Regions from separate parts of the Homo sapiens genome. Here region 1 is linked to region 2. The links come from fine-mapping of genetic effects on gene expression. A gene starts in region 2. The other region holds a variant in brackets. All regions are shown on one strand. Distances are between the middles of the regions. Region 1 holds the start of METTL18 (methyltransferase 18, RPL3 N3(tau)-histidine). Region 2 holds the start of SCYL3 (SCY1 like pseudokinase 3).

Region 1 (16,592 bases), 110 kb after region 2:
GTGTCTCTGTTCTCCCAAAGCCTAACACCATGTCTCACACACATTATGCACGCAGTTTAAGTGTTTTTGAATGTTTTGAGGGTGGCTATTTGTTTTCAAGTTGAAACTCCTTGAAGACGGCAGTTCTGTACCTACACAAAAACTAAAAAAGGGGGCTTTGGCACCTTCTGAGATTTTGCTAATGCCTAGGTGAATGACTTCTATGTGATTACATAGGGCTTTAGCTGCACAATATTTGTGCAGTATTGAGATTCTCTCAAGTGAAGGTTACTTTTTTTCTTTTGAGTGTAATTGTATAAAGCTGGGCTCAAATGTTGTGAAAAAGATACATATACATATGGTTTACCATGAAAGGCTAGGATTCCAGGCACATTTACAACCACAAAGGCATGAGACCAATCAAGAATGTGCTGCACCCGGACGAAGAAGGCGCTAAGCGCCTCAAATCCAACAGTTGAAAGCCAACAACAAGCGGAAGAACTCTTTCAGAAAGACTCCAGCCTGGGTGAGAGGAGTGAGAACTTGTCAAAAAAAAAGAAAGAAAGAAGAAAAAGAGGTCTGAGAGGGGAAGGAGGAAAATCATTTTTATTTACTGAACATCTTTTAAAGATTTCACACCACAGAACTATGCCCTTTAATTCTTATAACGCTAAGAAAGCCCTTATTCATATTCACCACCCTTTTTACGGGAGACAAAAGCTCAGAGTATCTCGCTTTACCTCAAACTATTAAGAGCCAGAGCTATCGTCATACCGCAGGTCTCAGTCCTTGCCTCCCCCATTATCCACTAGCAAAAGTATTTACACTTAATTGCAAGCAACGAGTACAGAAAAACTGAAAGAAGGAATGGAAGAAAACGCCACATCCACTGCTAAAACCTTGGGTCAGAACACGTCCGCGAGGCTTTCCAGGGCCAAAGCCTTACTTAAATCTACCACGGTTGTCGCTTCCCCTCCAGTCCCTCACTTTTCATCCCACTCACTGACAAAGAAAAGAGGGGGTTCAGGCCGCGGTAATATAACCCAGCCTGGCGGTGGGTCTGAAGGGACAGAAGAGAAAGGTTCGCGACCCGCCCACACCCTTCTCTAGGTAGAAGTGACAACCAAGGAAGGATATGAGGAGTCGGGGCAGGACGGACGGCAGTTCCCGGCGGCATAGCTCCTCTGGCCAGCTACTTAATTCTTCCAGGGGAACCGCGCTAGCTGGGACCGCACCTTCCTGAGACATACTTTCGTCAAACAGGAGAGCTTCAAACCAGACCCGCCAAAGCCCAGACCGGAAACTCGCAGTCCCGCCAACCCTTGCGCGCTCTCCGCCGGCTCCAAAACCATAGAGAGGAGGGCGGCTGGTTTCTTGGTGAGCCCGGGTCCCTCAAGGCCGGAAAGAAAGTCGGGCTTCTCTAGCCCCTGGAGGACTCGACTCACTGGTGCGCGATTTAGGTCCGGAGGAGGCGTTGTGAGGTGAGCTTTTTCAGAAGCGCGATCCCAGGACACGTCGGGAAGCAAGCATCCCCAGGTCTGGATCACTGTAAACATTACATTCAAATGGGGAGGTGAGGGCCAGAAGTCCCCACTTCTGGGGTCGGATTTGTTCCGGGACCTGCAGCCGGAAGTGACTCCAAGCCTTGCAGCGTGATGGGAGAGGAAAGAGGCGCGTTCCTAGCCGCGGGACTGGGTGACCCGCCTCTCCCCCAAATTGTAAATCTTGTATAAAGGGAACAAAGATCCCACTTGCCAGAACTGTGAAAATTGAGGCAGATGGTATAGTGTCTAGCGCAGTAGATAGAAGATTCTCAATAAAGTTGCTTCTTATTTCTACAGGTCTCTCCAAACTACTGCAGTGCCCTAGTTTGCGTTTGCTCTGCCACCGAATTAGTCTTTACTAATTATTGCCAAATTACCCCCACTTCTATACACTTAGGGCTGCTGTTCTCGACTAAATGTTTGGAGTGAAGTCTTGGATGAATTTACACACACCAGGCCATACCTATGCATGTTTTTAAAGGGACGCTGACTTACCAAAATAAAATACTGCACCTCTTCTGTAAAAGACAGAAGTGAAGTTATTCTGGAAGCTTAGGGGGTGAATATGGTTGGACACAAATCAAGACAGCTGAAAGACAGCAAGTAGCTAGGCTGTCCTGTCTGAATATCTTGGACTTTATGTTTGTCCAGGTGGTAGTGGTGGTGGTTGCTGTTGTTCTTCTGTTTGTTTTTATAGTTGATTTTCTTCTCCCACTTTGGAACCCTTAAGGTGTGTATGAGTGTCCAAATCTCTTATCTCTCTCTCTTCCCCACAACTTTTTAAGAAAAAGCAGCTGTATGGTGGGACAGGGAGGGGTGGGGGTGGCTGTTTAATATTACACTTTAGTGAAATGTGCCATTTTGCTTTAATCATCATTTTCTTTCTTTTTTTTTTTTTTTTCTTTCCAGAGCTGCTTGGAAAGAGGACCAAAGACGTCTAAAAAGTCATTTGGAAATATCTCTAAATATTTGTTACCATGTATAAGCTGCTAAAGAGAAATTGGGCCCAACAAAACTAATTGAATAATTGAGGCAGATTTGTGTGTATCATCAAATTCTATCCAGAAGTTGAAGAATCTGAATTTAAAGATTGTGTGCATTTAATAAGAGGATGACCTTTCAGTTTAATTTCACTATAGAAGACCATCTGGAAAATGAATTAACACCCATTAGAGATGGAGCTTTGACCCTGGATTCCTCAAAAGAGCTGTCAGTCTCAGAAAGTCAAAAAGGAGAAGAGAGGGACAGAAAATGTTCTGCAGAACAATTTGACTTGCCTCAGGATCACTTGTGGGAACATAAGTCAATGGAAAATGCAGCTCCCTCTCAAGACACAGACAGTCCACTCAGTGCAGCCAGCAGTTCAAGGAACTTGGAGCCACATGGAAAACAGCCCTCCTTGAGAGCTGCCAAAGAGCATGCTATGCCTAAAGATTTAAAGAAGATGTTAGAAAATAAAGTCATAGAAACATTACCAGGTTTCCAGCATGTTAAGTTATCAGTAGTGAAAACCATCTTGTTGAAAGAGAACTTCCCTGGAGAAAACATAGTTTCAAAAAGCTTTTCTTCTCACTCTGATCTGATTACAGGTGTTTATGAGGGAGGCTTAAAAATCTGGGAATGTACCTTTGACCTCCTGGCTTATTTCACAAAGGCCAAAGTGAAATTTGCTGGGAAAAAAGTCTTGGATCTTGGTTGTGGATCAGGTTTACTAGGTATAACTGCATTCAAGGGAGGGTCCAAAGAAATTCACTTTCAAGATTATAACAGTATGGTGATTGATGAAGTAACCTTACCTAATGTAGTAGCTAACTCCACTTTGGAAGATGAAGAAAATGATGTAAATGAGCCAGATGTGAAAAGATGCAGGAAACCAAAAGTAACACAACTATATAAATGCCGATTTTTTTCTGGTGAGTGGTCTGAGTTTTGTAAGCTTGTACTAAGTAGTGAAAAACTTTTTGTAAAATATGATCTCATTCTCACCTCAGAAACCATTTACAACCCAGATTATTATAGTAATTTGCACCAGACTTTCCTTAGACTGTTAAGTAAAAATGGACGTGTACTTTTGGCCAGCAAAGCACATTATTTTGGTGTAGGTGGAGGTGTTCATCTCTTTCAGAAGTTTGTAGAAGAAAGAGATGTTTTTAAGACCAGAATACTCAAAATAATTGATGAAGGATTGAAGAGGTTCATAATTGAAATAACTTTTAAGTTTCCTGGTTAATTAACATTCACTGAGTATCCAAAATGAAATAAACAGAAGGACCAAAAATTTGAGTGTTTGATTTCTGTTTTGCTATTATTTTTTCTGAAATTTTGATGTTGTTTGTTTAGTTTTGTTTATCCAAATTGTAAGTGAGCTATGTTACCAGTCTTTTACTCACTAGGTGAAACTGAGAAGGTATCCTCGTGCATTTGATGAGATCTCCTGGGAAATCATTTTGTAAGAAAATCCGGTATTCTCCATCTTCATTCTATTTGACCTTTTACCACCTTTGACGTTACATGAAATTGTTCCCAGGAAATCCTGCCATTTCTTCTCTCAAGTCTGTGAATTTCTTCCCAGTCTTCGTTAGTTCCTTGTTCACATTAATATATATCACTAAATATTAGGTTGGGGCCTTATGTAAATAGGAAGAGGTTTTTGTTTCGTTTTGTTTTTATATTCATTTACCTTGTATAGTAAGGATCAGAATGCTGAGAATTTAACTAAATTCACATGGAGATGAGGAAACAAAGGGAATCTGTGACAGAGTATAAAAGTAATACAGAGAACTTGTACTACTTGAGGTTTACCCCTTATAGCCAAGTAAAAGATCCTGCGGTCTTGGTAGGAGGAAAAAGAATAAGAAAGGAGAATTCCAGATTTGGGGGAGTATAGACTTACCAGTTGTTAAATAGTAGGAAAGAAAGGAGAAAGTGTTTTGTTGATTCAAATGCAAAAATTTTCACGTTACCACATTGGGAATTGGGATCTGCCTTGCTCTCTATAAGAACAGTAAAACTGACAGCATTTTTTTCTCTCTTGGAAGTAGCTAAAATAATCGGACATCATGGATTCAATTGAATGTGATATTTACTGGACTTTGTATAGTATCTTGCATAATACTTAAAACCTTATGAGGTTTATGTCATCCCCATTTTAGTAGTGATCATAATAGCTAACTAGCATTTACTGTATACAGGGCAGAAGAGCTTTACATATGTTAACATTAAGTATTCATAACTGCCCTATAAGACTTCAAGAAGTTAATTGATTTGCTCCCAATCACATTTCTCACCTTGAACCAGCATCTGAAGGCTTTAAAATCTTTACACTCTTTCATCACCCAGTGGTCTCAACTCTACCAATGCCTATTTTCATCACAAATATTTCTTAGCACCCTCTTACTACGCTAAGATGAAAGTCATAGTTAAGGAAACTTACTTATATACATTATTAAAAAGCATATTCCTAGTTTATGTATAATTATATGTGATACTCATTCACAACTCTAATATGAAGAAAGTAATTTATAATCAAATAATTTATATCTCATCAGATACACATACAGATGTAGCTACACAGAAGACATGCAGCAGCCAGATGCTTATACCTAGCAACAGGGGTCCCTGATGCCTGCGCCGTGGACCAGTACTGGTCCGTGGCCTGTTAGGAACTGAGCTGCACGGCAGGAGGTGAGCGGTAGGCAAATGAGTATTACTGCCTGAGCTCTGTCTCCTGTCAGATCAGCAGCGGTGTTAGATTCTCATGGGAGTGCACACCCTATTGTGAACTGCATGTGTGAGGGATCTAGCTTGCGCACTCCTTGTGAGAATCTAATGCCTGATGATCTGAGGTGGAACAGTTTCATCCTGAAACCACTCCCCTGCCCAGCCCTTCATGGAAAAATTGTCTTCCACAAAACTGGTCCCTGGTGCCAAAAAGGTTGGGGACTGCTAACCTAGAGTACCATTACTGAAAATGCCACAGCTACAATTCCAGACTTACCTACTAGGTAAGGTAGAACAAATTGGCCTTGACAGCTGGATTGGGGAATTGAGGTACAAATCACTGGATAGAGGCTCATAATACATTAATTGGTTTCAATGATTTTGAGACAAATAGGTATCTCTCAATTCTCCAAGAGAATTAGACTTTTAATGAGGTCTCATCCAGGAGGCCCATTCAGGAACAGCAGAGACATAGCCTCTAACTAGGGGCTCAGGACACAATCTCATTTCCCAGGGAGAGGGTCCAGCAAGTGCAGAAAGGATCAAAGCAGAAGCCCAGTCATGGGAACTAGATAATTTGGGGCATTAAAGATAAATTTGGGGCCAGGCATGGTGGCTCACACCTGTAATCCCAGCACTTTGGGAGGCCAAGGCAGGCAGATCACCTGAGGTCAGGAGTTTGAGACCACCCTGACCAACATGGAGAAACCCCTTGTCTACTAAAAATACAAAATTAGGTGGGCGTGGTGGTGCATGCCAGTAATCCGAGCTATTAGAGAGGCTGGGACAAGAGAATCGTGAGAAGCACTTGAACCCAGGAGGCGGAGGTTGCAGTGAGCCGAGATCGCGCCATTGCCCTCCAGCCTAGGCAACAGGGAAAGACTCTCTCAACAAAAAAAGAGAAAAAAAAAAGATAAATGTGGGGGTATCAAACAGCCCAAAGGGAACACACCTACCCAAGATAGCTGGCAGCAAAAGGGACTTGAGACACAAATTATGGCTACAAATCCAGGAAACAGATACGCAGCTTTCTCATGTAACAGTATCATTTAATCATTTAAGGGTTATGATAACTTGGGTTAAAATTCAATTTCTCCATCTGCAAAACAAGATTTATAATATTATATCCCTAGCAGAGTTCCTTGAAGATTAAGAGTTAAGCATTTATCATGGTTCCTATCAAGTTTCCTATGTATAAGTGGAAATTATTATTTTTAATAATTCGTACTATTTATTCACCTATTTTCTGAACCAGATAGGAAGTCCTGCTCACTTTTGTTAAAAATGGTGTTTGTGCCTTTACAGTATACAAATTTCAGTTCAGAACCTGAAGAAACCACTAAGTTCTAAACCTCGCTCTGCCCACCATTAATCTCCACTCTCTCTCATCCCATTCCCCTCCCTACTCCTCACCTCTGCATTCCTAAATTGTCTTTTTTGGAAGCTTTGGTTGCAGATTATTTAGGATGAAGAAGAGTGCGTCTTGTAAATTTGCTTCTAAAACCCAGTCACATATGTGCTATGTTCTGCCTTTAAACTGCCCATTTCTCAGATGTGCCTGTCCTCTAAGTTCCAGTTTTCATGTCCCACAGACGACGTTCTGTCCATGGTTCAGAAACTCATGGAAATGTCTCTGTGCTGACTGAGTTATGACTTCTCTGTGTCAAATGTGATGGCCAGTGACACATCTGCTATAGGGTCTGTGGGGTGGATAAGTGTCAGCGTTTCATCTGGAGAATTAGATTTTCGAGAAGATTAAACCTATCTTCACTTTTCAATGCCGTCCATAGTATTTTCTTCAGGTGCTTACTAAATGGTCATTTGAAAAAGAGGAATAGCAAGGAAACTCTGACTCCATGAACTTGAGTCTTTGCCTCCACTTCAGCTGGGACATTTTGAATTTTTTATACCATGGTTATGATGGCATTGTGATTGTTGATAATAAGGATTTTCTTTGGGTAAAAGTACACATTTAAAATTGCCATCATAACTAGCGCAACCCAGGAGAGAAGTTGCTCTGTGCTTTGTAAGACTCCTCTACTGCAGTCCAAGGATGCAGCTTCTATATAGCCCAGATGGTTGGGGGAAGCCACAGTACATTTATGACTACTAGCTATCCAATTTCTGCCTTTTCAAGGAATTAAAATTCAGATAGCCCTTAAAAGGAGTTTCATCATCTATACGGGAGGTTATCTAACAAAAATGCTATTTCTGTTTGAAAGAAACTATGTAAAAATTACAATTAACGATTACAAAGAACAACTTTATAACTTAAATATTATCTAACTTAAATATTACTAAAGAAAGTGGGGCATTTTACCCCTCACAGAGCAAGGTGAGTGGCCAATTTGTGATCTGCAAAAAAAAAGATTTGACGCAGGGATACTGTAGCTATCTTTTTCCATTTACTGATGGGATGGAAAAAGTGGATGTAAAGGCTTGCCTTTGGCAGTAAAGTTGACCCTTGAACAACATGGGGGCAGGGGTGCCCACCCCCCTGCAGTTGAAAGTCCACATACACCTTTTGACTCCTCGAAAACTTAACCACTAATAGCATACTCTTGACCTGAAGCCTTACAGATAACATAAACAGTCAACTAAGACATATTTTGTATGTCATATGTATTATAGATTGTATTCTTAACAATAAATTAAGCTAGAGAGAAGAAAGTGTTAAAAAATTAGGAGGAAGAGAAAACATATTTACTATTCACTAAGTGGAAGTGGATCATCATAAATG[T/G]CTTTGTGCTTGTCATCTTCAAGTAGACTTCAAGTATCTTTGAGTAGACTGAGGAGTAGGAGGAAGAGGATTGATTGATCTTACTGTCTCAGGGGTGGCAGAGGTGGAAGAAAATCTGCGTATAACTGACCATGCAATTCAAATTCATGTTGTTCAAGGGTCAGTTGTATATATTTTAAGCCTTTACAATAGAATTGCATGTACTTAGTCTCATGAAACCCCAAGTGCCTTGGCTGTGCTGCTGCTAGACTGTGTGGTTCACAGTACAAAGATAAAGATGCTCCTTCCTCCAGGCAGATTCAGCCCCATGATAGGGGGAATGGTGGGGTAAGTCAAACAAAATCTGTTTTTAGCCCCACTTGCCCTTTCAACTCTTCTTAGTCATCTTGTGGCTTAGTACTACAAACTTCCACAGTCTTCCAACTGATAAGATATAGGAAAATGGGCAAAAAGTGATCAACATGAAAAAAAACTATGTAACATACATCACATGTAACATACATCACGTTACAGGGGGCTGTAAGAGATGGGTTTTCCTTCTCACAATGATTTGGTGCTCACAAGAGCCATTCCATTGAGGACATCCAGCATGGCAAAATGGAATAAAGTTTTAGTAATCTCATTGTGCAGCAGATTGTTAAAGAAAAAAATGGTTCAATGTTACTTGTTAAAGCATGGTAAGGCAGACTTTATTCATTACCATTGAGATAGTATAGGGACCATGGCAATGGGATTTTGCAGTAGTGGGGAGAAAATAGTCTTAACTGCAGAGTATGGGCAAGTGGGAATTTATAGCCGAGGAGCAAGGTGGGTCAAGGAGTCAGTGGATGAAAAAATACTAAGAGGAAGCATCAAGGGTAAGGAGGATTCTAATCTAACAGAACCTAATAGAATTCTCGCTGAAGACAAGCCAGACACTACCAGGGAGGGAGATAGTGACTTTTGAGGTGGGGATTCTTGCTAAACTGACTTAGCAGAGCTCTTTACTAAAACTGGATTTTACCAAAAAGTCTGCAGGTGGGCATAAGAGAAAGCCCAGAAGCCTAACTAAATTTTGGCCAAGGAAAGAATCTGTCAAGGTGAATGCAGAGTTTGAACCGGAAATTAGGGCTACAGAAGCAAGTATTCCTGTGTGAGCCTCCCACCACTGCACACTGCACACTGCACACTGCACCCTGCAGGGAAAGCATCAAAATGAGCACTGAAGTCAGATGGCTGCTGAAATCTGTCCCTATCGCCCCATTCAAGAGCCTTAGATGTTCTCTGTGCGTCCTGGCTACACTGCAGCAGCAGCAGCATAGTTCTGAAAGCCTCTAAACATAATCCAGTTAGCCACACAGTATCTGTGTAGCTCTAGTAATTTTCAAAGTCTGCTCTCAAACCTCCAGCAGGTCTCCACCAGTAAAGTTCTACTACTGGTCCCAGTAGAGCGGTCACGGATCATTCAATCAGCTCAGTCACCTCTCAGATCTTCCTAAGGCTACAGAGGAGAAATCAATGTGCTTCACAATGTGTAGATAACAAACTTGTCCACTGTAAGATCCTGAAAATTTTATTCAAAGAGATAAATAGGAAAAGAAATTTCTATTCTGTCATGTCTGGTCAAGACTTGTCCAGATTCTTCTTTCTGTGTGTCTAAAATGTCCTAGAGCTCAAAATTCTTCTAGATCTCTGCTATTTTAGGATAAATAACTTCTAGTGAATTTCTGTAAACTAGATGGTGCGCTTATTTTAAATTGCATGAAAAAAGTATTCAGTGTGTGGGCATTTTTTTTAAAGGGAGAATGCGTGTGGAAAGGTACACTAATGCCTAGAAATTCAGAACACATCCAGTCAGCTCAGTGGCACAGCAAATTGTGCCACTCTCTATGCCAGCTTTTTTATTATCATTGCTATTCCACCCTCTTTGCGTTTTAAAAATCTTCAGAGGAAGACCTATTTTTAATGATTTGCTTTTCTTCCCTAAGCTTTCCACAGATTAAACTCTGCATCCTGTTTGCTTTGCTGTGTTCAAGCTTCTCCAGGATTTTTACAATAACTTCTAAGGAAAAATACCTCAGAGATGCATTTTCTTAGAAGGGTGGTCAGACGTTTTGAATATTCTGCATTTTATTTTCTTTAACAGGAAATACATCCAAGCCTGTATTTTAAATATTAAAATAACCACTCGTTTAACTTTGTGACTAGCTTTCATTTTCCCAAAGTAGGAAAAAAATATTATTTATATAACCTCCCTCTTTGTGTTTCTGAAATACTTCAGAAACTCTTGTGTCTTATCTCCCAACATTGTTCAACATAAAGAGAAATAACCTTAGTTACAGTTGAAATCATTAGAGATTCTTAAGTTTCTGGTAATTTTAATTAGGTTCGCTATCATCTATTACTGTCGTATAGATATTTTACATGATTGCTTAAAAAGAAATGACAAAAGCAAATATAAAAACCTGAATGTAAATTATTTTACCCATAATTGGTCTAAAGAAACATCCTGGATCAGCCCAGTATTTGATTACATTGATATGCACAGGAGACAGGGAAATACAGGTTCGCTGGTAAAGGCCCCACCTTCAAGCCTGAAAATCTATAGCCCTAAGTGAGAAGAGGCATTCCTGTTTTTTGCACCTAAAAAGTTCCCTTTTGGCCTGCCATGCCCCTTATTGTGTACCATATAAACCCCAAATTCCAGGCTCCAGAGAGAGACAGGCAGATGAACGGCAGAACAGCATGGCAGAGAAGGAGAGAAGAGGAGCATCTGAACGTCGAGAGGCTGGGGACGACTGGAGAGGAGATCGGCTGCTGGACAGCCAAACTCCAGGAGAATATCATCTTCCCACTCCATCCCCCTTCCAGCTCCCCATCCATCCCACTGAGAGCCACCTCCACCACTCCATAAAACTCCCACATTCATCCTTCAAGTCCATGTGTAACCTGATTCTTCCTGGATGCCAGACAAGGACCTGGGTACCAAGAAGAAACTGAGCTGGTTAACGCTTAAGCTGCAGACAGCAAAGCTGAAAGAGTGCACTGTAACACATGCCCACTTGGGCTTTCAGGAGTTGCAGGCACCCACCTCTAGACAGTACCACGGGGCCAGAGCCCAAAGAGCTCGCCCAGCTCCTGCACCTTCCTGCCTGTGTGCTCCCCCTCCTATGAGGGGTTTGAGCTCATGGTGGCGCAGCAGAGAGCCACCCCACTGTCACACATCCTGCGAGGGGGGCCAGAGAACTCTCCCATCTCAACATGTACACAAGCTTTTTATTTCTCTGGGGCATTTTTGTAATAGGAAGAATTGAGACCCTCCCAGGTGCCACTTCCTACATGTCAGTCCCTTTGTGTTTTATTTTTCTCCAATACTGGCAGACTAAACAGAATTCTGCCTTACACTAAAGCTCAAACACATTCTCATCCCATCAAGAACGCACTGAGTACTTACTATGAGTAGAGAAGGTAATTTCCATTTTCAATTATTCCTGTAAAAAAAAATTACCACTTATAAGAAAGTTTACTCTTGTGTTGTATAGTAACTCAACACACTTCCCTTTCCACTTCATTTCTCCTGGATCTCCTATAAAAAGCTGAGTGATGAACAGAAAAGACCCTGGGTCTATTTGTGTTCTGTGTGTGCCCCTTTTACTGTGACTTGTGCATTTCCTTTGTTAGTCAGGGGACTTTGTCAGATTTAATTTATGAAGGTTCGGAGATTAACTAACGGGAAACAGAACAACAGGTAACTGAGAGTTTTGGACTCAAGCCTTCTCAGAAAAAGAGAAATGTATTAAAGCAAGCAAGCAAGCAAACAGACAAACAAAATTGGATGGAAGGGAGAGGAAAGAGATGAAGAATGATAGAGAAACACATATGGAATTGCATGAATTAAAATTTAGAGCAGCAGAAAGAGTGCTGGGGAAAAAAAATGGTAGAGCCCAAGGAAGAAGACCAGGCAATCAGGGAGTCAAGGGGTTGCCTGCAATTCACACAATACTTGTGAACTTTTAAACAAGTGACTGTGGGAGATTGCTGGTGACTCATGGTGGTAGAGACAATCAAGAAACAGGGTTGGCAAGAGTGCAAGGAGAGGCCCTTGATGACAGCCCCAGTGACCTTGCTGCACCCTACATTTGACCTCAGTTGGAGTTTGGGACTGTGGAACAACACTGCTGAACTTTATATGTAGAATAACCCACACCCCAGTTTGCTTGAGATAGTGCTGAAGTATGCATCTGATATAACATTCTAGCATTCTTAAAAGTGTATTGATTATGGCCAGGCATGGTGGCTCTTGCCTGAGATCCCAGCATTTTGGGGGACCTTGGAGGGAGGATCTCTCTAGCCAAGGAGTTCAAGACCAGCTTGGGCAACATAGGGTGACCCTGTCTCTACAAAGAATTAAAAAGTTAGCTGGACATGGTGGCACACACCTGTGGGCTCAGCTATGTGGGAGGCTGAGGTGGGAGGATTGCTTGAGCCTGGAAGTTCAAACCTGCAGTGAACCGTGGTCATGCCACTCCACTCCAGCCAGGGTGAGACAGCGAGAACCTGTCGCAAAAAAATGATAATAGGTGTGTTGATTATGGTCAGCTTGTGTATACCAATTCTGTAACACTATTCTTATTCTTATAACTTTGTTGAGTGAGTCATGATTTTAAAACAATCACTTGATAAATAAATATTAACTTCAAATCATGTGTCAAGCACTGGGTGTGAAAATAGAATCTAAAGTTAAAATGATACATTCTGTGCTTTTGTAGAGCTTCCATTCTAGGGTGGAAATACACAAGTGAACCTCTGGTGAGAATGTTTTACATACTGTGCAGGTTTCTGATAGGGTCATCCTTTTGAGCTATAGAGTAAGACTATATCCCTGTAATAGGGTGTATATGGAAGAAAGTTGAAGAGGAAGAGTATGAGTGGATATTTCTCAGTATAAACCATCTCCTGGTGACTTAGTAAATTTTCAAATGGAAGTAAAACTTTGAAAGTTGATCAAAGAGCTAGGAAAACTTGCTTCTTTTTTGACTCTGAACTTCAAGAATTGAGACAGTTCCTGACAGTGAGAGAACAGATGGTCTCTGCCAACTGTAGGCAGGCAATGGGGGACTAAAGGCTAAAGATGAGCAACATAAATCTCGTAAGAAAAATATTAGGAGAACACTCTTCCCCCTTTTCAAGAAGAGCCTCCCCTCCATTGCCAACCCCAAAGGCCAGCAATTTTGTTCTATTAGGGGAAATGACTAGTTTCCTTAATAACATATATATGAAAAACAACTAATATGAAAAAGACTAGAATAATGACAAGTCAACTGGGACAGTGCTAAAATAGAGGAGAAATTCCTTTGGGCCAGTGAGGGAAGACTTCTCAGAAGAGATAACACTTGATCTCAGACTCACATGTAAGCAGATTTTAATCAGACTAATAGGGGAGTGAGACTGGAAGCGTGGTGAGCTGAGTGCTTAAGAGGCAGAAAGACTAGTCTGTGAAAAAGCACTAAACTTTGAGAGCGTGTTAATTCATTAATTCATGAATTAATGAATTGCACCTAGGAGTTCAATATGTATTGAGCACCTACTATGTGCCAAGAATATTCCAAGGTCCTGGGTTCTAGGAGGAAAGTCTGCATTTCCAATAGGTCCCACGTGATCCTGATGCTTCTAGATAATGGATAGCAATCTAAGTAGCAAAGCTACAAATCACTGAACTGTATGACCTCAGTCAGATATGAAGCTGGCTCAGTGACTGATGAAAGACCTTCCAATTCTTTATTTTTCCTGTGTCAATGAAAAAAGCCAAACTCTATACAATATTTAAAGAAGTTTACTGTGAGCCAAATATGAGTGACCAAGGTCTGCAACACAGTCTCATGAGTTCCTGAAAACATGTGCCCAAGGTGGTTGGGTTACAGCTTGATGTTATACATTTTAGGGGAATGGAAGTTACAGGCAGATATCCATCAACACATATAAGGTGTACATTGGTTCAGTCCAGAAAGGCGGGATAACTTGAAGGAGTGGGGCTTTTAAGTCATAGGTGGATTCAAAGACTTTCTGATTGGCAATTGGTTGAAAGAGTTGTTATTATCTAAAGACCTGGAATCAGTAGAAACTAATAGGATAAGATAAGGAGTTGTGGAGACCAAGGGTCTTATTATGTTGATGAAGCCTCTAGATAGTAGCTTCAGAGAGAATAGACGGTAAATGTCTTGTGCTGGGCACGGTGGCTCACGCCTGTAATGCCAGCACTTTGGGAGGCCGAGGTGGGCGGATCACGAGGTCAGGAGTTCAATACTAGCCTGGCCAACATGGTGAAACCCTGTCTCTACAAAAAATACAAAAATTAGCTGGGCATAGTGGCATGGATCTGTAATCCCAGCTACTCGGGAAGCTGAGGCAGGAGAATCGCTTGAACCCGGGAGGCGAAGGTTGCAGTGAGCTGAGATCACGCCACTGCACTCCAGCCTGGGCAACAGAGCAAGACTCCGCCTCAAAAAAAAAAAAAAAAAAACATGCTAGCCTCTTAGTTAAATCTCTCCTGGATCAGTAAAAACTTGGAAAGAGAAGGAAATTCTGTACAGCATGTCAATTTTCCCCACAAGAGACAGCTTTGCAGGGCCATTTGAAAATATATCAAAGAAATATTTTTTGGGATAAAATAACTTGATTTCTTCCAGGGCCTGGCTCTCTGCTACAAAGAGTCTGGCTTGTCAGTCTTAAGATCTGTGTTTTAGTGTCAATGCTGACATTCAGTTGTGCCTGAATTCCAAAGGGAGGAGAGAATAATGAGTCATGTTGGGCTTCCCCCACCTACCCCCAATCCTGGCCAAAACTAGTTTTTCAGGTTTACTTTGGTATTCCTTTGGCTGAGAGAAGGAGTCCATTCAGTTGGTTGAGGGGCTTAGAATTTTATTTTTGTTGTATACCTGTTTAAATTTGCCATCAAATATTATCAAAATTTCATCTTACCTATCTAAATTACATGTTCTATAGACACTTGTGAAAACTGGCATTCTTGTAAAACAGTCTATCACAGTTTAGCACTTTAGTTTTATATTTCATTGGGAAATTTTTTTTTTTTTTTTAAGTTTAGTCTTTGAAAAACCTGTGGGCTGGGCGCAGTGGCTCATGCCTGTAATCCCAGCACTTTGGGAGGCTGAGAAGGATGATTCATGAGGTCAGGAGTTCAAGACAAGGCTGGCCAAGATGGTGAAACCCCATCTCTACTAAAAAGACAAAAATTAGCCGGAGACAGTGGCAGGTGCCTGTAATCCCAGCCACTTGGGAGGCTGAGGCAGGAGAATTGCTTGAACCCAGGTGGCAGAGGTTACAGTGAGCCAAGATCGCACCACTGCGCGCCAGCCTGGGTAAAAGAGTGAGACTCCATCTCAAAAAAGAAAAGAAAAACCTGCATACACTCATGGTTGAAGGAAAATACTGCTCTTCCTACCTGTTAAGCCCACCTCTGAGCATAAATCCTTGGATTTCACTTATCACACATAATGATCCATCTGTGAAGTGTTTGTTTCTTGTAAGCAAGTGACTGTGATGCAAGGCTGGTTCAACATACACAAATCAATAAACGTAATCTATCACATAAACAGAACACTTGGACACAGGAAGGGGAACATCACACACCAGGGCCTGTCGGGGGGTGGGGGACTGGGGGAGGGATAGCATTAGGAGAAATACCTAATGTAAATGACGAGTTGATGGGTGCAGCAAACCAACATGGCACATTTATACCTGTGTAACAAATCTGCACGTTGTGCACATGTACCCTAGAACTTAAAGTGTAAATATAATAAAAAACCATAGTTCTCTAATAAAGAAAGAACAAAACATTGAACTAAAGCGCAGAAATAGCCCTCAAATAGCCATCCAATTCTCAAATCTTGCTCCAAAGTTAGTGAAAGGATAAGAGTTGTGAAAAGCTGATCAGTGGAAACTTGAGTTTATTTTTTTGATTATGTTTTATGTGGAGCTCTCTTGACCTGGCTGTATTTCCAGGAGACTATGGGGTTAAACCACAGTGGTCACAGTGAACCTCATGTCAGCCCAACAGAAACAAACATATGATGCAGGGGTTGTATCCCTGACCCCCGATTAGTCAGTTTTGCCTGGAGTGGACCATCCAAGCATGCTTTTTTACTACCATTTTTCAGAAGACATTTCCCACATTCTAAACAAAGGAAGTCTGGCCTTTTCTCCGTGACGTTCCCTTATTGTTATTTTATGCTGAATCACAGTGCAATGCCTTACTGTGCACCCATGCTCCTTGCTGGGTATTGGCAGTGCTCCCAGTGGGTACCACTGGTCCTGGCATCTCTTACCAAGCACCACCACTTCCCACAGGGCACAGCTTCTAGACGCCAAGGTTGTTCTGATGTAAAGTGCAGACAGAAAGTTCTCCTGCTTTCTTTTTTAGATCACATTCTTTTAGTACAAAAGCTTTTTCAGATGTTTTTAATTTTTTTTTCCTGCAAAGCACCCATCTTCATCCCCCCTGGATTCTGTCGTGTGTTCATTGCAGATCTGGGCCAGGATAAAAAACTGGGAGGAAGACAGTGACTCTAATTACAGAAATACCTCCCTTCCATCACCAAAGAACTTATTACAGA
Region 2 (16,592 bases):
CTATCCTACTCCTACTTCCCTCAAAACAAGATATAAATTTACAAAAGTATTCCTTCTCCCCTCTCCACTAGGAAACACAAAGTTTGATCACTAAAGGCAGCTTCTGTCAACACTAGAAGAACCTACATTAAAAACTTCCATTTATTTGCCTTACCATGGTTTGCCATCCTTTCTTCTGTCTTATTTCTCTAAGAGTTTATTCTTCTTTGTTGAAGATGCCATATATGCCTGAGTTCTAAGCCACCTCTTTGAGTATCTCCTATGTGTATATGAAATACACATGAATAAACTTCTGTTTGTTTTACTCTTCTCAATCTTTGTTATAGGGGCCCCAGACAATGAAATTAAGAGGGGGAAAAGGAACGATTATTTTTCCTCCTTTATACAACTTTACATTCAGTTCCTCATCTCTTTATTAAATTATCTTTAAAATTACAAAAATACATGCATGTAATCCCGGCACTTTGGGAAGTTGAAGCAGGAGGCAAGGTGTTCAAGACCAGCCTGGGCAACACAGCAAAACCCTGTCTCTACAAAAAATAATTTAAAAAATGTATCTGGATGTGGTGGCACATGCCTGTAATCCTTGCTGCTTGAGGGGCTGGGATGGGAGGACTGCTTGAGGCCAAGAGTTCAAAGTTATAATGAGCTATGATTGCACCATTGTACTTCACCCTGGGTGACAGAGCCTGGACTCTGTCTCTTAAACAAATAAACAAAAACAATGTAGGCTCACTGTAACACATAAAACAATATGCAGATATATAAAAAGGTATATAAAGAAAGTAACCTCTCCCTACCTTACATGGTGAATGTTAACAGACTAGTATATATTTTTCTATACTTCCATTCATTCATTCATCAGTAAATAATTGTTGAGCATCTATAATGTTCCAAGCATTGTTCTAAGCATTTATGGCAGATCATTGAACAAAAACAGATTTTTTTCCCTTGTGAAACTTAACATTCTAGCAGGGGAGAAATAAACCATTAAAATGTAATTTTTTTAAAAAAGTACAATGAGGTTTCTCAGGCAAATATAAAATGAACACATGTCAAAGACTCTATTTAATGTTTTTATTAATGAGGGAATCAGTAAGATTTTAAACTAGTCCAAATAGCAGCTGAGAAGATAGGTGTATATGTAGGCAATTTGATAAAGACATGTCAGGTTCAGGTTGCTGGGTTAATAACTTACAGGACAATAAACTGTAACCATTAAGATGATTTGCTGTGCTGGACAAACTTATTTACATCTCTAGTGGATGAAAATGAAAAAGTTAGCCTCTGCCCCTAAAAAGGTAATAAAGAAGTAGTAAAATAACCTAGTCAATAGGAATTTAATCCAGAATTGCATGGGAAGAAAGCCACAGTAACCTCTTTTGCCTATTTTAAAGTTTCAGATAATTGTTTTCTCTCAAAACCAAAAGCCATAATACATAAGCAAATTGTCATATTTCATCAAATATATGATGCCATCACATTTAGGAAGCATCAATATATTTGGTACCACTAAGAAAAAATTATTGACAAATTATATTATGCCATTTGTGGTAAAATGCATTCTGACCTTCAGGGATGTTAAAATGTGAAAAACTATAGTTTTTACAATCTAGAAAATACAGTATATGGCTGTTTATAAGACGGTCAGTGCTATGGAGGGAAAAAGCAAAAGAAAACAGGATAGGAAGCACCAGGAGTGTAGCAGGAAGGAAGGTAAACGTTGTAGAATTAGATAGGGTGGATCAGGACAGACTTCATTGAGAAGACGAGATCTGAACAAAAAATAGAAGTAACAGACTTAGTCAAATGGACATGTGGGAAAAGAGAATGACAGGAAAAGGAAGCGCTAGAGCAAAAGTCCTAAGGCAAGAGCTCACCTGGCATGCTGACAGGACAGCAAGGAGGCCACTGAGCATGGACCAGAGTTAGTGAGCAGGAGGATAGCAGTGAGGCCAAAGGAGGGAGGCCTTAGATCATTTAGGGCAGTTCTCAAACCTTCCTGCAAGGAAGGTGCCTGCAAATCACCTAAAGATCCTGTTAAAATGTAGATTCTGACTCGACAATCTAGCGTGAGGCCTCAGCTTTTGCATTTTTAACATGCTTCCAGAGGATGCTCATGTTGCCTTCAAATATTAATTAACCACCCCTACAGGATAGATCTAAGTTAGTACACATCTGTATCTCCCTGAAGGCTGAAGTATTTCAAAGAAGAGGTAGATATATAATGCACACATTGTTTGCCCCAAATCTTTCTCCCAGGAGTATGATTCCAAGATGATTCATGGCTCTTTGAAGTTGAGAAGCAATTCACACTTCAGAGGCTTTTAGCATCTGAAAGATTTCAATGAGAAGTCTATACTCCTGGGGCAGATACTACAAACACTTCAGCTATCTCTAACTCAGATCAATACTAGTGGCTTTAAGGATGTTTAAAAGTGAATTTTCATGGCCAAAATAAGTAATTTCAAGATGGACAGAATGAATAGAAATGTTGCCATGCCTTACATGATCAGAGTATGAGAATCTAGTGAGTCTAGCAATCTACACACTTTGGAAAGGTGCCCTAGATTTAGGATTTCAGACCAGCCCCATATGGAGAAGATTACAAGAAGATTTTGTCACCCAGCTCTAATGAGGATAGCTGAGTCTGCTATTAGAATACTGTCCCATCTTCCTGCAGTGGATGGACCTTTCATGCAAGATGCTATTCAAGCTCCTACACAAGGAAGTGGAACCTCACTGAGTTTGTATAACAGCTCTACTGCCTGTCTTTAAACCTTGCTAATAAACGTGTGAATGTGTAGAATCCCACCTCAGACTTGCTTTCATTCTCTCTTTGTAGTGGTAGCAAGGTTATGGTGGAACTTAGAAAACACATACTTCTCATTAGAGAAATCTTCCAATATCTATGCAAAGTTCCTAAAAACAACGAGAGAACAAAGTGGCTTAGGTCCAGTTCAGTTTTCTATAAGGTATCCACTACTTATGGATGCTATATGTATTTATCTGAAATGTGCCTGAAGGAGGGTTTGTCATTCATGCAAGTTTCCCCCTTTACACTTCCAGATTCTAATTGCAATTATGCAATTACACAAATTATTGAGGTAGAACATTAAATAGAAATCACTTGAATAACTTTTACTCTCTTTGGTTTTCAGGTAGAGCTTGTAAAAAAGTTAGTTCAAATCAAGTTGGAAAAAAATAATTAAGTTGGATGGCTAAGGCTTTTATAGAACCAGGAATATATCCAAGATACTTATAGTCTACTTGGGAATCTAAGTTAGAAACATGAAAAAGATTAATTAAAAAAACACCTAAAAGTCAAGCTGAATACCATTGACATGTTTTGATTTGAATTAAGAAGAGGATTGGTTGGAAGTAAAATTCAGGTTGATCCTTAAACAGTATGACAAGAAAAAATTATTTCTATTAAGAAAACAAACTATTTGTTTCTAACTGTCCCACCAGCCACATTCCAAGGACAGCGGATTCAGGTTGTTGGAGATTCTTTTCTTTCCTGGCCTTAGACATATTTAAAATGAGGACTGAGGAATCAGTGAGGGAATACAAGATTTCTATGCATAAGAAAGGCAGAAGGAGCTCAGAGAGCAGCTCCAGGGAACTGAGAACTGGAACCAGAGCTATAGAGGGCTCTGTGGGGTAAGGGCTGGGAGGCAGAGAGATGTAGGGAGGGTGCCTGGGACATGCAGTGTGCTCTCAGTAAATTCATTTGTGTGTTTAATATTTACTGAGTACCTAGTATGTTCTAGGCACTGTGTTATGTGCTAGAAATATGGCAGGAAAGAAAGAAATGAAGGAAGGAAGCCCTGTTTTCAGGGAGCTGATGTTCTAGCTGTGGGACAGAGATGCTGAACAAATATGTGCATTGGTGTTAAGCAAAATAAGGCAAAGTCAAAAGACAGGAAGAGGCAGGTAAGGTGCTGTTTTAGACAGTGTTTTCAGGGGAGCTGTCTCTGATAAATTGCATTCAAGTAGAATTTTCAAAATATAATTATAACTCTCATGCAAATATAAAATGAACACATTAGTTAATGAGGAAACTAAAAAGACATTAAGACTGTTCAAAGAGCATTTGTGTAGCTACATACTTACAAGCAATTTTATAAAGAAATACAGTAAGATTACTAGATTAGATTTTAAAATGAGAAATGCTCTCTAGTGCAATAAGAATAAACTTTGGGGTTAACTTTTCCACTGGACAGAAAGATTTGCATCTTTGTTGGACAAAAATATACAAGTTAGCCTGTGATTTCAATGCCCCAAATCTTTAAGAGTCTGAACAGGTGACATTTGTTCAGAGACCTGAGTGACATCAAGAGCAAATAGGTGAGTAGATGAAGAGTGAAGAGGGGAAGGACTGAGTGTCAAACTCCCTCCCATCTCTCTCCTACTCCATTCACTGCAAAATATTCCCTTCTCATTGATATTTGGAGGAGTGGGTTTACCTTGGGGAAATGAAAGGAAATACAGAGTCCTCTAGGCTGATGAATGATTATAGAGGATACCCTGGAGCTCAGCACATCTGGACATAAGATTAGGGAGCAAGGAACAGGGTGGGAAGGCCAGCAAAGACTCAGAGGTGAGGACACTGGGAAGAGGGTGGGCCAGCAAGTAGCTGTGTTGACTGCAGAAGATTTCACGTACTGGTTGAAGGGACTCATCTCTACTCCTCCTGTAAAAGGAGGAAAAACATAGTTATGAACTCTCGAGGGATAGTGTGAAAGGCAAGAGAATCCTTCTGTCTTTCAAATCGACATCCTCAGCATGTTCTCCCGCTGTCTCCTGGTGCTTGGGTGGCTGCTGCTGTTACACCCACAGCCATTTCCTTTAATAGGGAGGAAAAACCTTTCCTAATCCACTGTCTATCTTCCTCCCAACTTCTGCTATGTCTCACCGGCCAGAACTTGTGACCACCCTAGCGGGAAAGTAGGCTCAGAAAGTGATCTTTTTGATTTCTTAACTTCTTTATCGAAGGTGAACAAGGGAGAAGGGGGTGAGGAGTGGGAATGGATGTTGGAGCTAGTAAACCTAGGGTCTATGTGTTGTATTTCTTTTCTAATTCGGTCTCGAGGTCTCTCTCTGGGAGTGGTTATAAACGTTAGCTCTTCCGTGATGGGGCTTGGATATTTACAGTGTGCCTTCCATGGAATACTTCTTTATCCTGGCAGACGGCCTAAATCCTAGGTGTCTGACCCATGACAGGAGGTCCCTCTCACAGGAAGCTTGTTTATATTAGCAGGCACATTTGTGGCTCTTGTCTGCCCCGTGTCTGGTTTATTCCAACCAAGACAGCCACTCTCTAGGAGAGCCCTAACCAGGAAACAAGTCAGGTGTGGGTGTATAGGTCAGGTGAGACACAGAGGAGGTGAACAAAACATGTGAAATAATAGAAGCAGTTTCATTACTTACAGATCCATAATAAGAGGACAGCATGCCTCACAGGGCCAATGAGAAGGGGGACACACATGCTCAACCAGTGGGAGGGGGACGAGACAGAGAGAGGGACTTGCGGGCCAAAGCCTTCACTGTGGTCCTGGGTCCAACATCTTAGTCCCACTGTGACTAAGAGGTGGTCACTGAGGCATATCTGCAAAGTATATGTGGGGTATAGGGGTCAAGGGGATGAAGCAAGCAGCTTGTACCTGATGGTTCGATAGGGAGGTGGTCACCAGAGGCGGTCATACAAGGCAGATGTCTGGACTGACCACATAGAGGAAGTGGGAGGAGGCACAGAACTAGAGACTGTCCAGGGTGACTAAGCCCTGCTTCTAGTTTGAGAAGGTTAAACCTGTCCTCAGAATGGATAGTGAGGCCTTTGATATGTTCTCCCACCTCTTCATCAAGCATATTGACAAATCCTTTTTCACCAACTTGTCTTGCTATAACCGCCCAGTAGGTTCACCTTGCCGTCTGCCTAGATAGAGCCAATTTATCAAGACGGGGAATTGCAATAGACAAAGAATTCATGCAGAGCTGGCTGTGTGGGGGGCCAGAGTTTTATTATTACTCAAATCAGTCTCCTCCAGCAGTCGAGTTTTTAAAGACAATTTGGTGGGTGGGGAGGGGCAGTAAGTCAGGGAGTGCTGATTGGTTGGGTCGGAGATGAAACTATGGGGCATCACTGTCTTCTTGAACTGAGTCAGTTCTGGGTGGGGGTCACAAGATCAGATGGGCCAGTTTATCATCTGGGTGTTGCCAGCTGATCCATCAAGTGCAGGGTCTGCAAAACATCTGAAGCACTGATCTCAGGAGCAGTTTAGGGAGGGTCAGAATCTTGTGGCCTCCAGCTGCATGACTCCCAAACCATAATTTCTAATCTTGTGGCTAATGTTGGTAGTCTAGACCCCAGGCAAGAAGGAGGTTGGTTTTGGGAAAGGGCTTTTATTGTTTTTGTTTTAAACTGTAAATTATAAACTAATTTCCTTCCAAAGTTAGTTCAGCCTATGCCCAGGAATGAACAAGGATAGCATGGAGGTTAAGGACAAGATGGAGTTGGTTAAATTGGATCTCTTTAACTGCCTTAGTCATAATTTTGCAAAGGCAGTTTCATTGCTACCTGAATGATTTTCCTAACTTATCCATCAATCTCCTGGAAGCCTTTCTCCTTAACCAATGTCTTCAACTCTGCCAGACATGTGGCAGCTTCTTCATCAGCAGATGTGGCCTCTCCAGTTATTTTTATGTTTTTCAGTCCAAACCTATTCCTGAATCTGTGTAGCCATCCCTTACTTGCAGTAAATAGCTTGGTGTGCCTAATTTCAGGGGATCCCTTTCTTAAGTCTTCCTATAGGCTCAACACTTTCTGGCAAAACTTACTGCGGTCAGCTGAAATACGTTTTCTGTTCATGTCTCCCACCCACAAATGTAATGCCTTTTCCGTCTTTTGCTGTTGCACCTCAAACTACAAAAGTTACAGCCACAGTGCATGATAGGTGCTTAGTTAACTAGCACGAATCTTTTTCCTTCTTCACAATTTCATGGATAATTTGTTCTTATCATAGATTTTGGCAACCTCAGCATATGACTCTTTTTCTTTCCTTATTAAGTCCAGAGCTTTCACCTTTTCATTTAAAGGAAGCACTTTACAGCTTCTCCTCGGCATATCCAAATTGTCAGCACAATTCCTGTGCTTTGCGGCCATTATTAAGTAAAATAAGGGTTACCTGAACATAAGCAGGTGGTATCTCTCATTATCTCTGCTATACTACGGGTGCATCTGTTAACCAAAGCAGCTACTGAGTGGGTAATGAGTGGATACTGTACACAGCGCGGCTACCTGCGACAGATGATTCGCGTCAAGGGTGGGACAGAGTGGATGGCCCGAGATTTAATCGGGCTACTCAGAATACAGGCGGTTTGAAACTTAAGAATTGTTTATTTCTGGAGTTTTCCATTTAACATTTCTGAACCAAGGTTTGACCACAGGTAACTGACACTGCAGAAAGCATGGAGGGGGGCAAAACTACTGCATTAATATTAAAATTTTCAAATATTACTTTTTGCTAAATGAAATGTGATTCAGGACCTTCCCTCTCAAAGATCAAGCGAGATCACCACGACCTCCGCCAGCAGCGGCTCTGCACGACTCCACCCTCGCAGCCCAGCCAATCAAAGCTACAGGTTGAGTGACGTCACTCTCCTGAAAGTCCTCGCTAATTCCCGTACTCCTTTTCTCCGCCCTGCACCTCTACTGTTTGCTACAAGTGGCCAGCAGCCATTTTGGATTTGGGCGGAAATGAAATTAAAACTGTGCTGTTAAAAGCCTAAAAATTCAAGTCAAGACAAACTTAAGCATTCGACCAACACATCTAGAAAGGGGGCATCTTCGTGGACTAACTAGACCACTGGGGCAGTGAGTGAAACTCGGTATCGTCGCGGCGCCCACACTTAAGATGGCACCGGCCTGAGACTCAGCTGTGCGGCCTCTCTACCTCGGTTCCTGGTTAGTTGGCCTCATTGGTGGCGTCGGAGGGAGGAAGGTGGGCCTTCTGTCCCGTTTCCGGACCCGTCTCTATGGTGTAGGAGAAACCCGGCCCCCAGAAGATTGTGGGTGTAGTGGCCACAGCCTTACAGGCAGGCAGGGGTGGTTGGTGTCAACAGGGGGGCCAACAGGGTACCAGAGCCAAGACCCTCGGCCTCCTCCCCCGCCGCCTTCCTGCAGGTAACAGGGAGCCCTGCGCTGCGCCCCCAGTCCTTGCAGGACTGCGCCGTGGGGGAAGGGGCCGGGCGGGGAGGAGGCGGCGGGCGCGCGCCCCGCTCGCGGGTCTGCGCTCTGGGGCCCGCGCGGGAGCGAGCTCGGCGCGGCGCCGGCGGCCGGTTGAGCTGTGCTCTCAGCTTCGGAGCAGCCTCCCCTTGCTGATTGTGGGGCGCCCTGTAATCTGCGCTTCGCGGGCGGCCCCCGACGGGTGAGGCGCCCGCGGCCAGAGCTCTCCAAGGCGGCCGCGGAGTCGGTCCTCGCAGGGAGGTGTGGAAGGTGAGGGGCCAGCGAAGCGAGAGCGGCGCCTCGGCCCTTCAGTGACCCCGCGGGGTCGCGGCAAGCAGGGCGAGGGTGCTCGGCTGGGCGGGTCACTGTCCCGGGGCGGCAGTGCCCGAGCCCGGGGGGATCCTGGGGGCGCGCCCGCCCTCGGGAAGGCGGCCTCATTCTTGATCCAAGACCAGTGCCCGTCCCCCAAGGCCCAGCTGGCTCCTGTCTTGGCATAGTGCTTTCTGTTTAGAATAAAGATGAAACATTTCTCGGAAGAGCATATTCAGGAATCCATGTGAAATTCTCGGAGTCGGGTCTCGAATTTTGGGGGTCACTGTTAACTGCTGTTTTTAGGGACCCATGTTCTTATAAAATGTATCTTGAGCTGAAATCACAATTATTTTGGTCCATAAAGACTTAATTGTGTATTGCTTGTCAGCTAGCAATGCTGGACTGAGTTCCGCAGAGGGAATATATACCTGAAACACGAAAGCAAGGGCCGGAGTAACGTTACCGCTGGATACCAGAATATCAGCCAGTACAGTGCATCCTTAATACTCAGAGTGCAAGCCATTATCTTTGGAACTTTCAAGCTAAGGGAGCTAGGACCAAGGTAGTCTCGAGTAATTGCTGGGAAAAGAAAATATTTGGTAGAAACATTTCCATAGAGCACACGGGTTTCTTAGTTGAGTGTATGAGTTGCCCTTTGACCTAGACAAGGGTTTTCTTAATCTACAAGCGGTCCAGAAATTTTATGTGCTGCCCAAGTAGGCAAAAGAGTGGAGGGAGATTATTAAAGGGAAGACTGATGCATATTCAAGTCAGAGACTGTCAACTCAGCATTTTATTATAGAGTGGAGATGCTAAGTGCTACGAAATACCTATTACGGGATACTAGGATATCCTTTTCTACCTTCTTGTGACTTTTTAATTTCAAAGCTAATGAGCAAGATTTTGTGTTTTCCCCGTCCTCAAAACAACAGGAAAGCATTTTGGAAGGCCAAGTGTTTTTCTTACATTTCAATAAATCAATTTTAGCTGAATTATCATTTTTAAAGCACTGGCGGGCATGGTGGCACATGCCTGTAATCTCAGCAACTAGGGAGGCTGGGGAGGGCAGGTAGCTTGAGCCCAGGAATTCCAGGTTACAGTGAGATAGGATAGCGCCAATGCACTCTAGGCCAGCAGCAACAGAACAAGACCATATCTCTATTTAAAACAAAAAACAAACAAAAAAACTTCTTCATATAACAGTATTTGTGCTTCTTTAGATATATTAGTGTGAAGAATTACTGCTTCAAAACATTCTCAAATTGCAATAATCAGCACACCTTTTTAATTTTCCCCCAATAAAGTTTGCACTGGGAACATACAATATAATCTTACCACTGTCAGTATTACACTGATGGTATCAGTGGACTTCTGTCAAAGTTAACATGCTTTCAAAACAAGAAAATGGCATCCTTTCCAGTTCTCTCAAGAAATTGAGTCATCCCTTTTTAATTTTTAAGTGATTTTTTTAGTCTTAGACCTAAAATACAGTAAGAAAAATGAATTTTAACTACTTCCTAATGCTTTTATAACTTTGTTAATTATAGTGGAATTCATATGAAATCTAAGGTTAATAGCTATTGCAAGGCCAATGTTCCCACAAGGAAGTATTTTGCTATTTAGAAATAGCTAAGTAAATTAAATGTTCCTTTCTCTTGCCTCTGGTGACTGCCATTCATCAGCCAGAGCACTGACCCTGAATCCTGGTGGCAGTCTTATCTCCCATGAGGATTAATATTAACACTTAAATAAACAGCATGATTTCCTGCGAAGAAGATATTCATTAATATACAGTCCCTTATTCTCTGCTTTTCTCTTAATTGTGTGTTGATTTTGGAAAGCTGTGTTTTGTGGGTGAGAGAGAGACGGTCAGACTAGCTTCAGATACTTTCAAAGTAACACTTCTGTAACTCACTCTTCCAGTCTGACTGGCTTTTCAGGCAGGAGTTGGAGACCAAGTAGAGCTTTCTGCCTATGAAATGGCAATTAGTTTCAAAGAACATAGACCCATTCAAGTTACCTGAGGAAAAGGGGGCTGGTTGTAAGGGTGTCAATGGGATGTTAGGGTATCTGGGTGGAATTAGATTTGAGGCTGGGCTTCCGGTAGTCTTGAGATGGATAGTAGTAATGTGCCCCCTAAGTATGACTAAGCTACGGTCCCAGTGTTTGCTTTTTAAAATTTTACTACCAACTGACTTCCTCTGGAAAGTTTCTGACTTCATGTGGCTTTGGTTTGCCGTAGCTCCACCTCCACCTCATAGCATCCTTCTACCTTCGGCTATGCTTCTAATAGGCAAAAATTGTTCTTAGTTCAAATTCCTGGGGGAGACAATGATCTGGCCAGTTTATCTCTTCACTCAGGCCATGAAATTGATGGCTAATTTGTGAATTAACCGCCCTTTGGCCCAGGATAGGTACCTGCCAACATTAACTGTGCCCAAGAAGAGGTGGCAAGATCAAGTGCTAAGCATAATCCTCCCTACTCAGCAGGAGGTTGTGACAATCTGGCCAGCACTCTATCTCCAGAACAGAGGGATTAGCATTGTTGCTTTTACCCATGGTCCCACATAAACTTTTTATTTGTAGTCCCAGTAGAAAGGTGAATGTTACCATAGTTGCCATACTTGGCATTTCTTTTAGTACTGTTTTTTGCTTCTCTGTCATTTTTAAGAAAGATACATTGCCAGGTAGGTAGGAATTCAGTGAATTTGTTACAAAGCAGATTTAGTTCTTATTCTCAGCAACATTTTTAGATTTTGAAAATCTTCAATTTTAGATAGCTTTAGCCTTTATACATGTGTTTCTTATATAACGATGGTTGTGGATCGGTAGGCACTTTAAATTTTGTTCTAGGCATGTGTTTTGAGCAGCATTACATACCCAGTGTAGAAGGTGTTGTATGGAATTTCACCGAAGTGGGGAAAAATTCCAAGTAGAGGGTCAATGTGTAATGATTATTGAGTTTATATTTGTCCAAAGAATACAGATTTTAAACAAATTTTTAAAGGCCTACATAGAATTATTGGCCGTATTTGTAGCAGTTTGCTTTCTACATTGCCAGAGTTAGTAAGAACTCTATTTTCTAATTTTTATATTATGGTAAAGCCACCACTGAAAACTGACTGCCACAGATTTTTCAGACATACGTTGTTTGGCCTATATAGGTTTAGAAAACATTTGATTCAACATTGAAAAATATGGAGATTTCCACAAAACTATTCAGGCTCTTGGTTCCTCACGATAAGTGGCATGATCTGACAGTTCTGAAACTGCAGTCCTGGTTGGAACTCTGTGATAGCCACTGTCTTCAGAATGCAAGCCTCTCACAGTAGGTCCCATGCACGCACAGTAGGTCCCTCTGCCAGGCTGCCAGTACTGCTGGGGCACTGCACATTACCTGTTGTCACCCTGTGAGTTTGTATCCCTGTTGTCAAGAAAGCTGTTCATATTGTAGAAGATTTGGAAGGTGCAGGCAAGTGTGTGTGTATAAAATTACCTATAATCTGACCTTCCACTGGAAACCTCTGTTAATACTTCAACATATATTTTTCAAGTCTGTGTGTATGTATACATATATTTCTTTTCAAAACAACTTTGAGGCGTAATTGATACAGAATAAATGAAAAAAGTGTACAGTTTTATGTTTTGACATAATCACCCGTTACCATCATCATCATCAAGATAATGAATATATCCATCCTCCCAAAAGTTCCTCATACATCATGATAATCCTTTCCTCTCCCTTGATCCCTCTAACTGTGCCCCTTCACTAGGTGAGCACTGAAGTATTTTGTCATAGTTGCATTTGAATTCTGTGTATGTGTGGGCTTTTGTTTTTTTTTAGCAATTGAGATTATTTGAGATTCAGTTTTGCGGTTTCCCCTTTTTACTTAGGATAGCTTTGAAGAGTAGTGCGATCGTACTTTTTCTTATGTTTATCGTCATTTGTGTTTCTTCAATGAGTTGTCTGTTTTCTTTCCCATTATTGTACTGGTGTTTTAGTGTTTTACTTGGTTTATATGAGCTCTTCATTTGTTAATATGTTTTTCATCATATTAACAATGTTTTTCAACATATTAATATTAAAACCATGATTTTCCTCATTATAAGTATTCTCCAATTTGTATTGTTTTCCTTTATAATTTTAAGTTATTTTCTACATACAGAAGTTTTATTGTTTTTGAGTAATATTTTTACAACATTTTCCTTTGTGAGTGAGGATATACAAGTGAGTTAGGAAGTATGAATTACCTTATTCTATTTTTGATTGCCTTTCCACTCTGAAAGTTTGTATGTGGTGGAGTTTGGGGAGGGACAGTAACTACCTGTGACTATTTAGTAATGTGCATTTTCTCTAGAGCTGTTAGTTGTTAATTAACAACCATTGCTGGTAACTTGCAGAGCGTTTACCATTTTTACTGTCAAATGTCCTAGTTATGAGGATCAAAGAAACTAGTAGTTTGGGGTGGCTATGTCTGGATATCTCTTGTTGATGTTGCAGATAGGGATTTAATGTTTGAAATTGTTTTCTGTTTTCTTTTAGATCTGCTTGGCTTTGAGGAAGAGTGGCAGTACTGCCTCACTGCATAAGGGATGGGATCAGAGAACAGTGCTTTAAAGAGCTATACACTGAGAGAACCACCATTTACCTTACCCTCTGGACTTGCTGTTTATCCCGCTGTACTGCAAGATGGCAAATTTGCTTCAGTTTTTGTGTATAAGAGAGAAAATGAAGACAAGGTTAATAAAGCTGCCAAGGTACCATAATAGGTGACGACTTAATAGTTAGTACTTTTTACTATCTTGTTTTCTTTTAAAAAAATATGAAATTAGTAAAGTTCAAAGGAGGTAAGATCATAAGGACCAGTATTTTATTTATGTCCTTTCAAAACATTGCTCTTACTTCATGGGCCTATCTTCCATTTGCATGACATGGTCAGGTACCATACCTGTAGCCAAAAAACATCATAAAACTCAGTACAATGGCTTTTATCATCATATTTTATTTTTCTGGTGAGAAAGTTAGGGAGACATTTTTATGTAGCTAATATAAGATATAAGGAGCTATATAAGGAGTTAATCTCGTCTAGCAAAATGCAGTTAAGTATTGACATCATTCTGGAGGCTTCAGCTTCCTCCTTAGGGAAAAGATCCTTGTAGTTCATGCCTTATAATTGTTGCTCCAGGCAGAGGGTGCCAGTGCATTAGCATGCTGTCTGACACACTCAGGAGATCCTGGCCTCTTATCAGAAAAAATGATTTTACTGTGGAATGTAAGTCAATAAAATAACCCCAAGTGTCTTTTTGAATTAGGGAAAATGAAGGCATTAGTTGATGCTTCTTTGGATAGCTAGCACTTTGGAAATTTAGGAATTCAGATATATCATCTTCTAAAATGGAAAATGTAATTGTATTAGTAAATTAATTCTCCAGTGTTTATTCTGGTAGGCATGCTATTTTCAAGTTGAACTTGATATCTTGATTTTGTTAGAATTATAATCTCTATTACCTTGAGTCCCTTAGTTATCAACAGGTATGGAACATTGATGTCTGTTTCATAGGACTCTAAATTGTTTTTATTTTTTTAAAATGATTATAAAGGATTATATTAGTAATGGAATTTTGGTCTTCACAACAGTAATTTATTTGATGTTGTATTTTTGATCAAGCATGAAATTGTTATAAGATGGTTCCTAAAGAAAAAGATGGGTAACAGTTCTCTCGAGATGCGTGGTGGTAAAAAGTATATAGCTGGCTGTTTTCTTGCTAGGTAATTTTGCTTTTTGGTAGAACCACATTTTTGACTCTTTTTTTACATCATCTAGGTATTGTTAAGAATTTTTTATTGTGATTTTACAAAAGACAAAATGCCTTACTTCGCTTTCTTGTTCTTACAGTTAATGTCTAACATGCCTCCTGTTATTTTCATCTAATAAGATTGTGCATTTTTTTTAATAAACTATTATCGGCGAGGTACTAGAGACTTATCTTTCTTAGTATTTTTTTCTTTATAAGATTTTTTTAAAATTGTGTTACACTTTATGGTGCACGTACCAAGAAAATTGAATAACCTAGATCGAGTTTTTAAAGGAAAAAACAGCAAGACCACTCTCCATTTTTGAGGACTTCTGTGCTGAAGGAATTGCGAAGCTTGAGAGGGAAGACTTATTCCCCCTTAATATTCATAGATACCCTTTTAAGCCATGTCTGAGTCTTTGCACATAGTTCATCTTTGTCTCTTGTTAAGCCATTCTGTGGCTTTGAAAACCTCATATATGAATTTGGGAAATTTGAAATTGCAACAAAGTGATAACTTTAGATTCTCAGAATGTTTCTCATAATCTTAAAAAACTAGGTCATAGCACTTGAGAAATGTATGGCATTCGATGTGCTAGATTTTAGGAATTTGATGTCCTAGGTATCTGAAATACTAAAACAATATATTTAGCTTGCCTCACTTTCTCTAGAGTTTGGGTTGTTGGTCACACCTTTGGTAGTTTTAACGATTATTTCAAGCAGATATATAGTGTTTTCTGTTACTGGATAACAATATACACTTTCTTCACTGTTACAAGTAAAAAACAACAATCCTAGTATACACCAAGATGAAATGCAGGTATAAGCTCTGGCCACAAAATAATGTGAGAAATACTTAGTTCTATCTGACCATCTCATTTTACATTGAATTCATCAGCTATAATTAACAGTATAATTTGCTAACTGATGATGATGACTCATATATGTAAGCCTATAAACAGTGATAAATTCTAAGCCCGAATTTGGTTGCTGTAGTTTGCTGTAATCTAAGTGTTTAGTTAGGGCTTTGTGGTAAGCTTATTAAAGCTTATAAAAATGATTCTTGAGTGTCTTTATGCCAGGAATCACATTGGACTCTAAGAGTGGTATGTAGATGCTATATAAGTGCTCTATTTAGTATTGTTGGAGTCATTATGCTCTTCCCCATAATGAATTTGGGCTGTTGTGGAAGGGTTAGTCAATGTTATTTAAGAATGCACATTGTGTGGGCATAACAAGAAATGGAAGAGATGATGGCTATGCCCAAAAGAGCTTGCATTCTAATTGGAGAAAGCTGTTCTCCTCTCTCATACTGACTTTTTTTTTTGAGATGTAGTCTCACTCTGTTTCCCAGGCTAGAGTGCAGTGGTTCGATCTTGGCTCACTGCAACCTCTGCCTCCCGGGTTGAAGTGATTCTCCTGCCTCAGCATCCCACGTAGCTGGGATTACAGGCACGCGCCGACACACCCAGCTCATTTTTGAATTTTTAGTAGAGGTGGGGTTTCACCATGTTGGCCAGGATAGCCTCTACCTCTCGACCTCGTGATCCGCCTTCCTCAGCCTCTCAAAGTGCTGGGATTACAGGCATGAGCCACCGTACCTGGCCCATGGTTGACTTTTTAAGAAATTATTTTTTGCCCTTCATAATCAGAATCCAGTGCTCTTACGTGGCTTCTGGGCACTATCCACTCAGAAGAACTTCAGAAGTATCCCCCATGCCTCAGGTATGATGGACCCACCAGATGGAATGGCCAGCTACTTGCTCCCCACCACACCTTGCAGACTTCACGCTCTCCTTTTTCCTTGGATGTTAATAACCATCCAACCTGCCATTCTAAACTAATTATCTGCCAAAATCTCTAGTCTGAGCTCCAGATCTATATTTTCACTTACCTATTGAACATTTCCACCTAAAAGTTTTATCAGTACCTCAAATGCAAGCTCTACAGAATGGAATTTTTATTCCTTTCTCTTTCTGCATTTTATTGTTAGTTTATGATCTAACCTTCAGATAGTGGACATTTACAAAAAAAAAAGCATCTGCATTTTGTCTTAGATTTACATCTTCAGAGAAAAAGGAATAATATTTTTCCCTGAAGATCTTTGTTCTCTAGTTTAGGCATCTTGGTTATTTTGTTTACTTAACATATTTAACAGCGTGAAATTATGGCTTTGTCTCATCTAAAAGCCTGCAGGTGGATTTGGGCTGTAATGCTGAGTCAGTTAACTTTGCATAGTTCTCAAAGTGAAATAGCG

What was found.
Region 1: its variant is fine-mapped to the expression of SCYL3 in whole blood (TOPMed, PIP above 0.99). The same link has a PIP of 0.9 or more in blood mononuclear cells, spleen and tibial nerve.

Annotation. Positions count from the first base shown.
Region 1 is chr1:169,779,738-169,796,329 of GRCh38, reverse strand. METTL18 (methyltransferase 18, RPL3 N3(tau)-histidine) reads left to right here and starts at 1,423. Exons shown (of 2, transcript NM_033418.4): 1 at 1,423-1,515; 2 at 2,433-3,801. The coding sequence starts at 2,635. The coding sequence ends at 3,753. FIRRM (FIGNL1 interacting regulator of recombination and mitosis) reads right to left here and starts at 1,290. Exons shown (of 25, transcript NM_001320047.2): 1 at 1,215-1,290; 2 at 347-501. RefSeq lists enhancers at 1,371-1,690, 13,823-14,324. The variant T/G (reference allele first, on the strand shown) is at 7,984.
Region 2 is chr1:169,885,381-169,901,972 of GRCh38, reverse strand. SCYL3 (SCY1 like pseudokinase 3) reads left to right here and starts at 8,077. Exons shown (of 13, transcript NM_020423.7): 1 at 8,077-8,185; 2 at 13,083-13,297. The coding sequence starts at 13,133. RefSeq lists enhancers at 7,650-8,059, 7,734-8,321, 8,322-8,909 and silencers at 8,260-8,339, 8,580-8,639.